3 linked regions of the Homo sapiens genome follow. The gene in region 2 interacts genetically with the main gene of each other region. Each region holds a gene or a part of one and is shown on either strand. Other genes may lie near its edges.

Region 1 (2,904 bases), on a different chromosome or scaffold from region 2:
GCAGGGGGTTCCCCGGGAGGGCATCCTGGCAGGCACTGTTGGAAAGGCAGCAGGTAGCCATATAACCTCACCAACAAAATGCCTGCATGCCAGGCAGTGCACAGAGGGCTTACCACATTGACCCCATTTTAACCCTCAGAGCGACCCTTTGAGGTAGCACTACTACTCTCACTATTTTATTTTTTGAGACAGGGTCCCACTCTGTCACCCACACTGGAGTACAGTGGCGCAATCATAGCTCACCACAGCCTTGAACTCCTGGGCTCAAGTGATCCTCCCGGCTCCTCTGCCTCCTGAGTAGCTGGGAGTAAACGTGTGAGCTACCATGCTTTGCTAATTATTATTAATTTTAAAAATTTTTATTTATTTATTTTTTGAGACAGAGCCCCGCTCTTGTTGCCCAGGCTGGAGTGCAGTGGTGCAATCTCGGCTCACTACAACCTCTGCCTCCCAGGTTCAAGCAATTCTCTTGCCTCAGCCTCCCTAGCTGGGATTACAGGCATGCCGGGCTAATTTTGTATTTTTAGTAGAGACTGAATGTCACCATGGTCAGGCTGGTCTCAAACTCCTGACCTCAAGTGATCCACCCACCTCAGTCTCCCAAAGTGCTGGGATTACAGGTGTGAGCCACCGCACCAGGTTTTTATTATATTATTTTGTTGAGACACAGTCTCACTCTGTCGCCCAGGCTGGAGTGCAGTGGCATGATCTCAGCTCACTGCAATCTCTGCCTCCCAGGTTCAAGCGATTCTCATGCCTCAGTCTCCTCGGTAGCTGGGATTACAGGCACCTGCCACCGCGCCCGGCTAATTTATGTATTTTTTTTAGTAGACACAGGGTTTCACCACGTTGGCCAGCTGGTCTCAAACTCCTGACCTCAGGTGATCCACCTGCCTCGGCCTCCCAAAGTGCTGGGATTACAGGTGTGAGCCACCGCACCCGACCCTGGCTAGTTATTTTCAATTTTTGTAGAGATGGGGTCTTACTATGTTGTCCAGGCTGGTCTTGAACTCCTGGCCTCAAATAATTCTCCTGCCTTGGCCTCCAAAAGTGCTGGGATTACAGGCATGAGCTACCCCGTCCGGCCTCTCCCTGAGTAACCTCAGTCACTGGTTTCACGCTCACAGTATTAGCGTACCCAGTCGTTGACGCCAGGCATAGTGTCTGCACTCATCGCTGCAGTCCTGGCATACAGCAAGGGCTCAACAGAACGAACGCAGTGGAGCTGGGAGAATACCTGAGGTCTGAGAGGAACCTAAGAAGTCCCCGCCCCTCCTCTATCACATGACAGTTAGGTAAAGTGAGGCCCGGAGAGAGAGGCTTCAGCGGCTCACCCAGCCCCCGTGGGCCTGGATCCAGGGCGTGAAGCTGTGCACGTGCTCCACGCTGAGTCCGGCCAGGGTGCCCCCCAGCCCGGCCACGCGCCGGCTCAGCTCCATGGCTAGGGCCAGGCGGGCCAGGGGCTCCGGGGAAGGAGGCGGGGGCCCGGGGCATGCTCGGCTTGGGCGAGAGCTGTCATCCCGGCTACAGAACAGCTCCACCAGGCGGGCGAAAGAGTCGGAGGACAGGCGGACCAGCTTGCTGCGCAGGGCGGGGTCCGAGGCCAGCTGTAGGGTGGAAGAGGCAGGGTCCGCGTCAGCAGCGCCCCCGGGGCCAGCCAATAGAGGGCCGGGAGGCGTGGCTTCCCGGTTCAGGATCGTTCTAGATGCTAAGGTTCTAGGCCACCCCTCATCCATATTAGCCAATCAAGCCAGACTCCAGGGTCTCTGCCAAACTACCCCCGGGATAGTGGCCTGGAACGTGAGTCCCTAAGCCATGCCAGGCCCTTGCCTCAACAGCCAATCAGGGCCAATCTCTACTGTAACTGAGTTAATCTAGCCATGCCCCTGGTGACCTTTCCCAGGGGCCAACCTAGTGTCTACAACAATCTTGCCCTCTACCATTCAATTAATATTAAAGGACGATGTACCTTGTCCAAGCTCCGAAGCCAATCAGATTCCAGGACACAGCCACAAGCCACACCTCCTCTGGTAGTACATTTTCCCCTACATTCTAAGCCAGGTCCCTTCTATGCTCAGTAAGATTTTAGCCACTCCCCCCACCCCCACATTCATTCACTTACTTCCCCAGCTTGGCCAGTCTCTTGTGGATAATGTTTCTGATGGCCACACCCTCTGCATTTAGGCCATGCCCCTCTAAACAATCAATTAAAACAACTAATTTACGGTACAGTACTACCCTAACCATACCCCTGTCATTCAACTATTCTTTTTTTTTTTTTTTTTTAAAGACAGAGTCTCACTCTGTCACCCAGGCTGGAGTGCAGTGGCGCAATCTTGGCTCACTGCAACCTCCACCTCCTGGGCTCAAGCGATTCTCCTGCCTCAGCCTTCTGAGTAGCTGGGATTACAGAAGCGCACCACCACACCTGTCCGATTTTTGTATTTTTAGTAGAGATGGGGTTTCACCATGTTGGCCAGGCTGGTCTCGAACTCCTGACCTCAAGTCATCCACCCAACTCGGCCTCCCAAAGTGCTGGGATTACAGGCGTGAGCCACCACACCCGGCCTCAACCCTTCATTGAAACCTTGTCCCAGCCTCTTTCCACCTGACCATCCAAAGAAAATACAGATCCAGCTTCTGATCCCAGTGCCCCACCATTCCGCAACTCCTGTCCTTGCCAAGGAGTGGGACAGATGCCCATCACCTTCTGGTTAATGACTTCTGCCTCCTCCTCCAGCAGGGCCACCAGCCTCCGCAGTATGGCTTCCTTCTCTGTCGATGGGGGACCCTGTAATTCTGGAGGCAGAAGAGAATTTGGCTGGGGGCAGAACCCTGACTATCCTCCCACCGCCATCCTTCTCTGGGGCTCCTCTGTGCCTCACCTGGGCTGGGCGGAGATTT
Region 2 (2,532 bases):
TACAGGCGTGAGCCACTGTGCCCGGCCATACAGGTGGTTTCACTCAGAGTTCAGCCATTGTCATCTGTGAGGGGGACACGTGGTTGGCTTTGTTGTGTGCTAACTTTGATGGTGACCAGGGGGTTCACTGAGCTCTGTAAGGTGCTGAAACTCCACTGATGTTTGTGATGAAAGACAAACAGCAAACATATTTGCTCTAAAACAAAAACGGAATTCCCTTGACCATCGTGCTTCGATGATCTCAGACTATTCTGAAGTTAAATTATATAAAGGAATTCTGATGTCATGCCATCCACATTCTCCAAATGTAAGACTGAGAGATGACTGCTTCCAAGGTAGCATCAACAAAGATTTTTACAAATGAAAACGTTAGATTTAACACCCGAATTAAGCGTGGAAAGGTGAAACATCAAGGCGGCAGGCAGCCTTTCTAAAAAGTTTGCTGTAGGAAAGATAATGTCAAAATAGGGACCAGTCCTGGTTTCATTAAGAAGCTATCATGACGTCTGATTTTAAACCATATGTAAATACAGTAATCTGAAGGATTTGGCAAAGATTTATTTTTTTTTCCATTTCCAGTTTTTTAAAGTAGACACAGATTTGCTTAGAATAAAGCTGATTTTAAAAGCACACAAAAGTTGAACACAAAGGAGAGGATTAAATTCACCAATGCAGAGTGATAAAGAGGAAAAGATACTGAGTAGGTGCCTTCAGCAGAAAACTGATCATCCAGGGTGATCACCTAATAATCGGAGACTTAATTCCTTATAATGCAAAAGCAAGAAGAGTTTAGTGTACGAACTGTACAGCTGAGTTTGTAGCTCTATCTTGGTTTCTGTTGATTATGAACAATTAGCATAGTTATATATAATCTTTCTTTAGTAGACAACCTGCATCCATTTAAATTAAATAATACTTTCTACAATAGTGTGATATATAAGGCCACAATATTTATTTTGGACAAACCCCTTAAAGTAGCGATTTTATTATCAATGTTATTCATTCTTTTGAAATATAAAGTACTTCAGCTGAATTAAGGTTGCAGATAATTTTTAAAATACAACACACATCATGACTAGTATATTAAAATTATTTATATTCAGATATTTATATCTAATATCAAATGAAAATTTACTACCAAATTTTCACAGTAGACATTAATCAGTCTGACATGCTTATTGATCCCATAGGTGTAATTATAGATCAACATGATTTTAGTGTCTATTCTTTTATTTTACTAAATTAGGAACGCAGCATTTACAGAACAAATAAACACAAGTGACGTGGCCACCCCAGGATCTAACAGCTCTTCAGTGAGCTATGTTGCAAGCTCAGAAGTAATCCACTAACGAACCAAGTCAGACTCCAGTTCTTCATCAAAAGGTGCTGGTGGAGGTTGTCAGACGCCTTCCAATATAGATCCTTCACAGAAAAATTATCAGTAGTTAATGTATCTTGTGATTCACAGGAGACTGTGTTACAGCTGAAACAGGGTAGCTCACTGTGGTTAGAGCTTATGCAAGGGGACTGGTGATTTTATACCCATTATAAAAATTTTGTAATGAATCTATCTGTGATCTTTTATCTAGTGTTTTATCAATATGTATTTTGTATTAATTAACTTAGAAAACATCAGATCGTATTCTTACATAGAAGGATCACCAAACCGAATGCTGTTTCCACACAGAAAGCTTCTGCTTTGTTCCAACTCAGTGCTGGGGGAAGTCACCTACCAGGGCAAGATGGTGTTGCTAGTTCATCACCACCAGCCTCACCAAAGCCAACTGCTTAAAAATGAAGCCCCTGCCCTCATGTGGTTTAAGTTTGGTAGTGGGAGAGATGTCCCAAACTAAAGATGCAGGAGTGTCAGAAAAGGCTTTTCGGCAATAGAGAGGCTCGCTCCAGCTGACCAGCGGGCATCACTCCCGGAGGGAGGAGGATGGGTCTCCAGGAAAGGGCAGAATCGGAAGCCTGGCTGGCCTGGCCTGTGGGCGGTGGTGTGGTGGGCACTGTGAGCGCAGACAGTGCTGCAGCAGCTTTCGGGGCAGATTTTATCGTGTGGTTCTGAAAAGCAGCTGAGGGGGTGTGGGTCGCCAGTGGCAGCATCAGGCTCTGAAAACCCGGGCAGGACGAAGGACAGTAGCTGGGAAGTAGTGGCTGCAGAAATCCATCCTGAAACGAAGGGCTTAAACCTTGTATTTAAAATGAGGATCCCGAGGCCTTGCCCCCAGAGTCTGCTTGACAGTTCTGGAAAAGGCTCCAGAAAGCAAACTGCCTGGTGATGCTGATGCAGTCTGTAGGTCTGACTCCCAAAAGCACCAGCAGAAATGAAGGTGACGGGTTATGGGGGGGACGTGAGAATGTGCCCAAGAGCTAGGAGAAAGCCACGCACACGGGAGGGCGAGGTGGAGACACGGGCAGCGCTCAGGTCCCGGCCCAGGAAACTCAGTGGCTTTTATCCCGTTTCCTTCAACCCCAGATGTGAGCCCTCTGGCCAACCTACCTAACCCACCTGCCCCCAGTGGCATTCCG
Region 3 (2,407 bases), on a different chromosome or scaffold from region 2:
CCAACAGATGCAGGGCGGGTTGGCCCCTCAGTTCATAACTTACTGCTGATAGGATCAGGAGTAGTTTTTCCCAAGGATTTTCAGAACTCTGTCAAGAGCTTTAAATCACCGCTTTGAATCAGACACATTGTTAATCCACAAAGAAATGCAAGCCAGGAAGTCCCCCTACAACTAGCTTGCCTCCTGAGGGGCTACCCTGATAGAAAGGAGGGGTGGGGTAGTGTGTGCGGGAGGGGCTGCCGGGGTCCTTTCCCTCACTGGGTCCCAGTGGCAGACAGGCCCTTTTGACACATTCCCTTTAATCCTGCAAGGCCGGCACAGTCGTATTTCACACGTGGAAGAACTGAAGGCTCAGAGAGGTGACATAACTTGCCCAAGATCATTCAGCTGGAGGAGGAGGGAACCGGGTCCAAAACCTGCATCTTTCCCCCTCACAGGGCCTCTGCTGTGCTGCCTATCGCGTGGTGGTCGGAATCACTCTTCTCAACTCCAAGAGGGGAAAGGAAATCACGGCGAAAGCTGAGCGCCTTCAGGTCACTCAAGCTGGCAGCTGAGAAAGCTAGAAGGCTTTAATTTCCTAACTGATCTCCTTGCATTTTTACCACACCTTGAAAAATAAAAGACCAGATTTGCTTTAAATGATTTTATTAAAAATTGTACCAATTGATGGGGGGAAAGATATACACACATACACACATATGCATGTGAAGAACATAAACACATAAAGCCAAAGGCTCTGTACAGTTTTTTAAAAAATGGGGCCCCTTTCTTCTTCCTCTCTCCCAGAGGCAGAGTGCCCAGACCCCAGGGCAGCTACCCTGGGGATGAACAAAATGCTACATTCTCACTGGGTCTCCTCGATAGCCCCTGTGGATCCAGGGATGGGGTAGAAGGCTAGCAATGCTCCCAGAGCAGGGAGGGGCACTGGCCACCTGCACAGAGAGAGGGGGCAGTGGGGCTCTGAGCACCTTTAGCTGGGAGGCTGGCTGGGCACCTATGAGCTCAGCTTTTTCCGCTATCCCCTCAAGACTCAAAAGTCCCCACCAGCCCTCAGGCTGCCTAAGGGTGACAGGTGAGCCCCTTCCTGCTAGGGTGTCTGGCCAGGATGGCCTGCTTCCAAGAGTCCTCACCTTCACACACAGAGCTGTTTCCAGCCCAGGCCAGCACTGATTTGCAGAAGGCCTGCAGAGCCATGGTGACCAAAGTCTTCCCGCTTCTGCCACGTCCCTTCTGCCTACCCCACCTCCCCATCAAGTCCCTCAAAAAGAAGTGCTCACTGGGGTAGCATGCTCCTTGCTGTCCAGGACAGTCACCGTGGCTCCACAGCACTCTTCCTGGGAGGCCCTGGCTGAACCATCCCGAATAACCCCCAGGCAGGGGCCACCTGCCGATGGGGCTGGGCTGCCAGGAGCAGTGAGACAGGTCAGCTGGGCCCCTCTGGGTCCTTCAAACAAGCCTGCCACATAGCTTTGGACACAGACCTACTCCCCTGGGGGCTGAGGGAGGTCACTGGGAGGTGATCTTTTTCCACCTCGGATTGAGCAAGAGAAGGCTGCCAGTGGCCCAGACTTTGAAACAGGCCAGGCAGAGGCCAGGCTGAGTCCTCCACCCTCATTGCAGGAGTCCAGCGTCTGGCCTGGGGACTTCCCTCACCAGATCTGTTGACCAACTTCTAGAAACCCCTGCTTTGGGGTTGTGAATTAGAAGGGCTGTTTTGACCCTGAATATCAGGCTTCCCTTCCTCCCAGGCATTTCTTTCCCGAGGAGGAAGGTTTCCAGTCCCTCTCCCAACCCCCACCCTCAGCAAGCCACAAAGCCTCCACCGTCTTCAGCTGGTTACAGGTCAGGATCCAGGTCAGACTCTCCCTCCCTCTAAATCTGATTCTCCACCCCTCGCTAGAGACAGCCAGGCTCCTGGGGGTGGGGGATGGAGTCTGAGGGGGTGGAGGTCGGGGGGGAGGGGCAGGTCTCCTGAGGCTAGACTTGAGGAATGTTTAGGCCAACTCACCAGGCAGAGGAGGAAGGGGCCAGTTTAGATCACTAAGCCAATTAAAAACAACCAGCCAGAAAGAACCTTTCTCCTTCCTGACAGCTACTCTGCCAGCTACCTCCTGGGTTTTGTTGGTGGGGAAGAAGGGAGAGGGAAACGTGAGGGGTGTAAATTTTGCCCTGGCTCACTTAAGACAGTGAGTGAGTTCCTGGCTTTGCATAAGATGGAGACAGTGCAGTCAGACCACCTTCCACCTGCCCCAGGCTTGATGTTGAGGTGGGTTTGTCAAAGTCTGGGCTCAGTTCTCAGGCCACAGGGCACCCAGCCTGGGCCTGGCAAGGTCTCTGAAGCTGATGGCCTTGCCCCAGCACCAAGATCTAAATCATTTTCTCTCTCACTGAACTCAGGTGGAGAGTC

Evidence for each region.
Region 1: changes in BNIP3 (region 2) and BCL2L12 together harm fitness more than expected from each alone (negative genetic interaction), as found in Homo sapiens cells (one large-scale study listed by BioGRID).
Region 3: changes in BNIP3 (region 2) and BMF together harm fitness more than expected from each alone (negative genetic interaction), as found in Homo sapiens cells (one large-scale study listed by BioGRID).

The regions. Positions count from the first base shown.
Region 1 is NC_000019.10:49,668,919-49,671,822, reverse strand, and holds part of BCL2L12 (bcl-2-like protein 12), read right to left. Parts: coding exon 2,886-2,904; intron 2,800-2,885; coding exon 2,708-2,799; coding exon of another isoform or gene 2,659-2,707; intron 1,608-2,658; coding exon 1,335-1,607; intron 1-1,334.
Region 2 is NC_000010.11:131,967,148-131,969,679, forward strand, and holds the end of BNIP3 (BCL2/adenovirus E1B 19 kDa protein-interacting protein 3), read right to left. Parts: exon of another isoform or gene 2,508-2,532; coding exon of another isoform or gene 2,480-2,507; intron 1,423-2,479; coding exon 1,377-1,422; 3' UTR 537-1,376; downstream 1-536. UniProt on the Homo sapiens protein: Apoptosis-inducing protein that can overcome BCL2 suppression. May play a role in repartitioning calcium between the two major intracellular calcium stores in association with BCL2.
Region 3 is NC_000015.10:40,087,262-40,089,668, forward strand, and holds the end of BMF (bcl-2-modifying factor), read right to left. Parts: 3' UTR 629-2,407; downstream 1-628. UniProt on the Homo sapiens protein: May play a role in apoptosis. Isoform 1 seems to be the main initiator.